Homo sapiens: one gene and its partner. The protein of the gene in region 1 purifies or fractionates together with the protein of each later gene. This does not show direct contact. Each region holds a gene or a part of one and is shown in the gene's direction. Other genes may lie near its edges.

Region 1 (3,093 bases):
TGGAGAAGGACCCCCTGACGCCAGCCCACCTCCCCTGCCCCTCAGCAGGCCTGGCTCCAGCACAGAGAAGAGCCATTGTTGCTGCTCTGGGGGCCCTAGGAGCCTGGGATGTATCCTGCCTTTGTTTCTAGAGCCTTTGTTTGTTGTATTTCCTCTGTCTCCAGACATCGCAGGCCGGTGGGACCCGGCGCCTGTGCACGCTCACGTAGCGGGGCCTGTTCGGGTCCCTCGTGGGTCCCTTCAGTTCGAGCTCTGTCCTTGCCTCAGCGGCCCGTCACCCATAGGGTGGCAGAGATGGGCCGGGGGAGGGAGTGGGCAGCAGTGCGGACCGAGTCCTGGCGCATGGGGTTTCCCTGGTGCTGGAGCCGGGCGTTTCGGGGGTGTGGGCGGGGCTGGGGTCATATCCCCTGCATGCCCCGCATGCCATGGCTGTACTCACATGGCAAGAGGTGGTGATCGCCAGCTCAGGGAAGGTGGGGGTTCCTTCATCCTGTGGAGAGGGGGCTGAATTGGGGTCCCCTGAGCTGTAGGGTGCAGTGCCTGACAGGCCGTGGGGAGGGCCGAGGGGATGGGGACTGACAGGCCCCGGGCCCATGCCGCCCCCTGGCACGGGTGGATGCCCCGCCTCCCGGGGGTGCCCAGCTGGACTGTGGCACCCCCAAAGGACCCCACATGTCACTGTTCCCCCGCAGGGCTTCCCACGGCACGACATGGAGACCTGTGGTTGCGAGGCTCCCTGGGGCTCGGCTTGGACCGCGATGGGGCTGGGCCCTGGCCTCCTAACGGGGCTGCTGTCTGGGGCGGTAGCTGGGGGGGCGCTCTCCCCCCTGCCCGCGACTCGGAGCACCCCCACCCCTCCCCTGCCGGGCCAGGCCGGGCGGCGTTGTTGGCGGGGGCCCCGGTGGAGGCCCGGCCTGGGCGGCGCCCGCCATGAATGGGCTGTCGCTGAGTGAGCTCTGCTGCCTCTTCTGCTGCCCGCCCTGCCCCGGCCGCATCGCTGCCAAGCTCGCCTTCCTGCCGCCGGAGGCCACCTACTCCCTGGTGCCTGAGCCCGAGCCGGGGCCTGGTGGGGCCGGGGCCGCCCCCTTGGGGACCCTGAGAGCCTCCTCGGGCGCACCCGGGCGCTGGAAGCTGCACCTGACGGAGCGTGCCGACTTCCAGTACAGCCAGCGCGAGCTGGACACCATCGAGGTCTTCCCCACCAAGAGCGCCCGCGGCAACCGCGTCTCCTGCATGTATGTTCGCTGCGTGCCTGGTGCCAGGTGAGCAGCTGTGGCCGCGCCTGGGCTGGGTCACCCTGTTCTTGGGGCTCCCGTTTCTGCCTGCGGTGCTTGGTGTGGTTGGTGGTGCCCCCGAGGGCCCGAGCCTGCCGTGAAGGGCCATCCAGCCAGCAAGGGTGGTATCCCCCGTCAGGCCGGCCTCGTCCCTCTGGCAATTTTCTCTCGCAGACAAGGACACCAGGCTCAGGGAGGCCATCCCCAGCTGGCATGGGTGGGCAGGCTGGGCGACTCCAACAACCCAGCGCCTGGTGGTTGCCTGCTGGGCAAGAGCTGGGGCACAGGGGCTGCCCTGGCCTGCGGGTACATCCACCTTCTCGCCAGGTGGGGTTCTGACCAGATCTGAGTCCAGAGGGCGAGCCTTTACCTTCTGGCTGGGCTAGGTGGGGGCCTGGGGGAACTGGAGGAAGCAGTCCATGGCAGGGCCAGCCTGGCCACCTGCTCCTGGCACCACCTGGGGCAGCTCCCGTGCTGGGAAGCAGACAGGCCTTGCAGCACAGCCTTGGGGCTTGGGCAGGGTGGTGGGCCAGGAGGGGCTGCATGAGTGTGAGCAGAGATTGGCCGCATTTGCTTGTTGGGGGCAGGGGTGGGGTCCAGTTGTGCCCCAACAGTGAGGGCACCATTCTGTGAGGTGAGGGGAGATAGCCCTGCCAGCAGCAGCATGGGCTCCCCTGGGAAGGTCCTGAAAGGTGGGCCTGTGCGCTCCATCCCCGGGGGTCCAGGTTCTTCCAGGAGGAAGGGCAGTGAAGCCTGCAGTATCTGAGCACACACTGCGAGTCTGCCCTGAGAGAGGATGCGACCGATGGTCCCAGTGTCCCGCTTCACAGATGGGAATCCTGAGGCTCCCTGGCTGGCCTCTGCAGCCCAGGCTGCCTGTCCCCCTGCCAGCTGTCCTGTCCTCTCCCCATGGGGAACCCTCGGAGATGGAGCTGTGCTGTCGTAGCCTCCCCTCTCCATTCACTGGCTTCTGGCCCCCTTGGGAGGGGAGTAAATGAGGCACTGGGCATGGCTGGCCACCGGGGTGGGCTGTCACTACGCATCCTCCTGCCCTGCAGCTGGGCGCTGGGAGCGAGGATGTGAACGGCCCTTCTCGGCCTGTCCCAGGTACACGGTCCTCTTCTCGCACGGCAATGCCGTGGACCTGGGCCAGATGAGCAGCTTCTACATTGGCCTGGGCTCCCGCCTCCACTGCAACATCTTCTCCTACGACTACTCCGGCTACGGTGCCAGCTCGGGCAGGCCTTCCGAGAGGAACCTCTATGCCGACATCGACGCCGCCTGGCAGGCCCTGCGCACCAGGTGAGGGCGACCCTGGGGGCAGCTCAGCCTGGGCACACCCAAGAGGGGACCAGGCGGGGGGCCGGGGGGCGGGCTTCCCTGGGAGGAAGGTGGGCGGCCCTGCAGGAGGGGAGCCACAGTGGATGCACAGGGCCAGAGAGCCGGACAGGCGAGCTTGGGTGTGCAGGTGCCGCCTCCACATGGCTGAGGTGTGGCCAGGCGGTCCTCCCACACCCTGGCCTGTGGAGCCAGGTTCCCTGGGAACCCCTGGCCTGAGGATGGGAAGGGGCTGAGCTTGTCACAGGGGTGTGGATGCCACCCGGCGGGAGGGAGTGGGTGGTGGTCTGGGGGTCTGTGCACGTGTGGCTGGGAGCCCATCGGCCGAGGCAGCACTTGGGGCCAAGTGAGGCGAGGCTGCTGCATCCAGGTCCGGAGGACTGGCCCATGAGGCCCTGTGGCTGCGGAGCTTGGCCATCCTGGGGCAGGGCCTACAGGGTAAGGTGCAGACCCGCAGCACACATCCGAGGTCTGGGCCAGC
Region 2 (3,500 bases), on another chromosome or scaffold:
TTAAATAGATGATAGATTAGAGAGATACATAGATAGATGAGAGATAGATAGATAGGATAGATAGATACACACATACATATAGATAGATAATGGTGATGATAGAGAGATAGATCAATCAGATAGATAGATACATAGATAGAATAGATACATACATATGTACGTACATAAATTAGATACATATATACATACATACATAGATTAGATAGGTAGATACATACATACATACATGGATAAATAGATTAGATAGATAGATACATAGATACATACATAGGTGCATTAATAGATTAGAGAGATAGATGATAGATTAGAGAGATACCTAGATAGATGAGCAATAGATAAGATAGATAGATATGTACATACATATAGATAGATGACAGATAGATAGATAGATAGATAGATAGATAGATAGATAGATAATGGTGATGATAGGTAATAGAGATAGATAGATACATACATAGATACATGGATACATAGATAGATAGATAGATAGATAGATAGATAGATAGATAGATAGATAGATAGATAGATCATACATACATACATACATACATACATACATAGATGCATAGATACATAGATACATGGATACATAGATGGATGACGGAGAGAGAGAGAGAGAGGAGAGATTCTCTATACTAAAAGCAGGATCTTTCCACGTCAACACTATAGACATTTGGGGCCGGGTGATTCTCTGTGGTGGGGCCATCCTGTGCAGTGTAAGGTATTGAGAAGCATCCCCGGGATCCACCCACCAGATGCCAGGAGCACCCCCACAGTTGCGACAACCAGAACTGTCCTCAGACATTACCCAGTGTGCCGTGATGAGAAAAATCACCCCTAGTTGAAACCACTGTCAAATGGTAGGCAGATAAATGATAGAGATGAGAGATAAATGCTAGAAAGGTATAGATAGATGACAGACAGAGAAGATTAATAAATAAATAGATATAGGTGCCAGAGAGCTAGATATGATATATAGATAAATTGATAAATGATAGATATGATAGATAGATATAGATGGATAGATAGTCACTAACAGAGACTCTCTCATGCTCAGGCAGGGTGTCAGCCTCAGCACTGCTGCCATGTAGGGCTGGAGGATTCTCTGTGTTGAGCCTATCCTGTGCACTGCAGGGCACTGAGCATCTTCCCAGGCTCCACCCACCACGCCCCAGGAGTACACCCTCCAGTTGTGACACCCCAAACTGCCCAAGATATAGACAAGCATCCCCACTGGAACAGAATCTCCCGCAATTCTGAACCACAGGGTGAGAGGCAGGCAAGATAAGACAAGATGATCCTTCCAGAGACCTGGAAGGAGAAGCAAGATCATGTCCCATCCCCCAGGTCTCAGGGAGAGAATGGGCTGGGTCAAGGGACTCTGGATCACTTCCTTCCATTTCTCCATCTCCCAATGTGCTGTATGCATGCTCTTGTTACTATAATAAAGTAAGTAGAATTGAAGAGACTCTGTCGTTACAAGCCACACATGTGTAGATTAAGCAGATATTCCCTGTGCAGGTCAGGTCTCAGGGGAAATGGAGGATTTATTCTCCACCTTTCCAAGACCAAGGGCCCCGCTGTGTGTACGTGTTATTCTCATCAAACATGCTTATCTGCCCGAGGACTAAATGCTGGCTTCCACATGTGACATTTTTACTTGCAAAACTGGATCAATGGGGAGCGTCATTTATACTGTCCCATGCAACAAAGGGAACTGAAAAAGTGCAGGAATGAGGAGACTCAAATCCACGCACATTCAGAGACTCCAATCCACACTCAAAGAGACTCAAATCCAACTCATTCAAAGAGACTCAAGTCCACACTCATTCAAAGAGACTCAAATCCACACTCATTCAAAGAGACTCAAACCCACACGCAATCAAAGAGACTCAAATCCATACTCATTCAAACAGACTCAAGTCCACTCATTCAGAGACTCAAACCTACACGAATTCAAAGAGACTCAAATCCACACTCATTCAAAGAGACTCAAGTCCACAATCATTCAAAGAGGCTCAAACCCACACGCATTCAAAGAGACTCAAATCCACACTCATTCAAAGAAACTCAAATCCACACTCATTCAAAGAGACTCAAATCCACACTCAATCCAAAGACCAGAGCCAGCCTCTTGGAAGCACTTGCTCCTCCGGGCTTCCCTGGGACGTTTAAAGTGGTTTTGAAGATGTCGTATGAGGATGAATGCAAGACTTTGAGTTCACACGGTGCTGACTGGCAGCGCCTGCTGCTCAGAGCTGTGATGGCCTCCTCAAGGGGCAGTTGTGCAGCAGTAGCTCTGATGGAATCTCCAGGAACCCACTCTCCAGCAAGGAGCCCTGTCACATGCATACCTGCATGAGCCTCTCAGCCAGTGGTTGAAATGGGCATGTTGCAGACAGCCTCTCTGTGAGATGCAATAGATGAAACCTGAGGCTCAGTGAAGCTGGAGGCCTCCCAGGCACTAGCTGCTCAGTGAAGGCGCTGTTGTCCATCTACAGTGTCCATATGTCCATCACAAGCTCTTGGCATGAACACAGGAAACTTCTAGGATACTCAGGCTATTACCCTGGGGTTGGAGGCATTCTGTCTCCAGGTATTTATTTATCACTCATCTGTTCTTGGGGTGGAGGAGAATGAGACTACTCCTGCACTCAGGACAGGGACAGACCAGCAGGTGGCCACACGTGGAATAGAAACAGGAGATACCCCTTCAGTCTCAGCCACAGGGAATGAATGAGCAGGGTCCCTGTAGGGGCTGTGACTTTGTAGATGAGAGACCAGAATAGATTAACATGGCCTCAGTACTGTTTGTTGGATGGTTGAATGGATGGCTGCATAAATAGATGGGTGAATGAATAAATGAATGAATGAGTGAATGAGTGGATTAGTACATTAGTGAGTGGATGGATGGATATGTAGACAGGTGAATGAAGAGTGGATGAATGGATGAATGGATGGATGGATGGATGGATGGATAGATGAGTAAATGGATAAGGAATGAATGAGTGGATGAATGAATGAATGAAGGGATGATTGGATGGATGAATGAATGAGTAGATGAATGAATAAATGGATGGATGGATGAACAGATGGATAGATAGGTGGATGAATAAGGAATAAATGATTGAATGAATAGATACATGAATGGGTGAATGATAGTGGGTGTATTGATAAATGGGTGGATGACTGAATGGATGGATTGAAGGATGAACGGATGGATGGATGAGTGGATGGATAAGGAATAAATGAATGAATGAATAGATAAATGAATGAGTGAATGAATGGATCATGAATAAATGAATGGGCAAATGAATAGTGGATGTATGGATAAGTGGATGGATAAACGGATGGATGGATGGATGGATAGATGAGTGGATGGATAAGGAATGAATAAGTGGATGAATGAATGAATGAGTAGATGAATGAATAAATAGATGGACGGATGAACAGATGGATAGGTAGGTGGATGGATAAGAAATGAATGAATAGGCTGGGCG

Evidence for each region. The genes of interacting proteins can lie anywhere in the genome.
Region 2: the proteins of ABHD17A (region 1) and P2RY8 purify together in Homo sapiens (co-immunoprecipitation; one large-scale study listed by IntAct). This does not show direct contact.

Annotation. Positions count from the first base shown.
Region 1 is NC_000019.10:1,879,404-1,882,496, reverse strand, and holds part of ABHD17A (alpha/beta hydrolase domain-containing protein 17A), read left to right. Parts: exon of another isoform or gene 1-692; 5' UTR 693-930; coding exon 931-1,262; intron 1,263-1,448; coding exon of another isoform or gene 1,449-1,601; intron 1,602-2,381; coding exon 2,382-2,576; intron 2,577-2,638; exon of another isoform or gene 2,639-3,093. UniProt on the Homo sapiens protein: Hydrolyzes fatty acids from S-acylated cysteine residues in proteins. Has depalmitoylating activity towards NRAS. Has depalmitoylating activity towards DLG4/PSD95. May have depalmitoylating activity towards MAP6.
Region 2 is NC_000023.11:1,527,186-1,530,685, reverse strand, and holds part of P2RY8 (S-geranylgeranyl-glutathione receptor P2RY8), read left to right. Parts: intron 1-3,500. UniProt on the Homo sapiens protein: G protein-coupled receptor for S-geranylgeranyl-glutathione (GGG), an endogenous metabolite present in lymphoid tissues.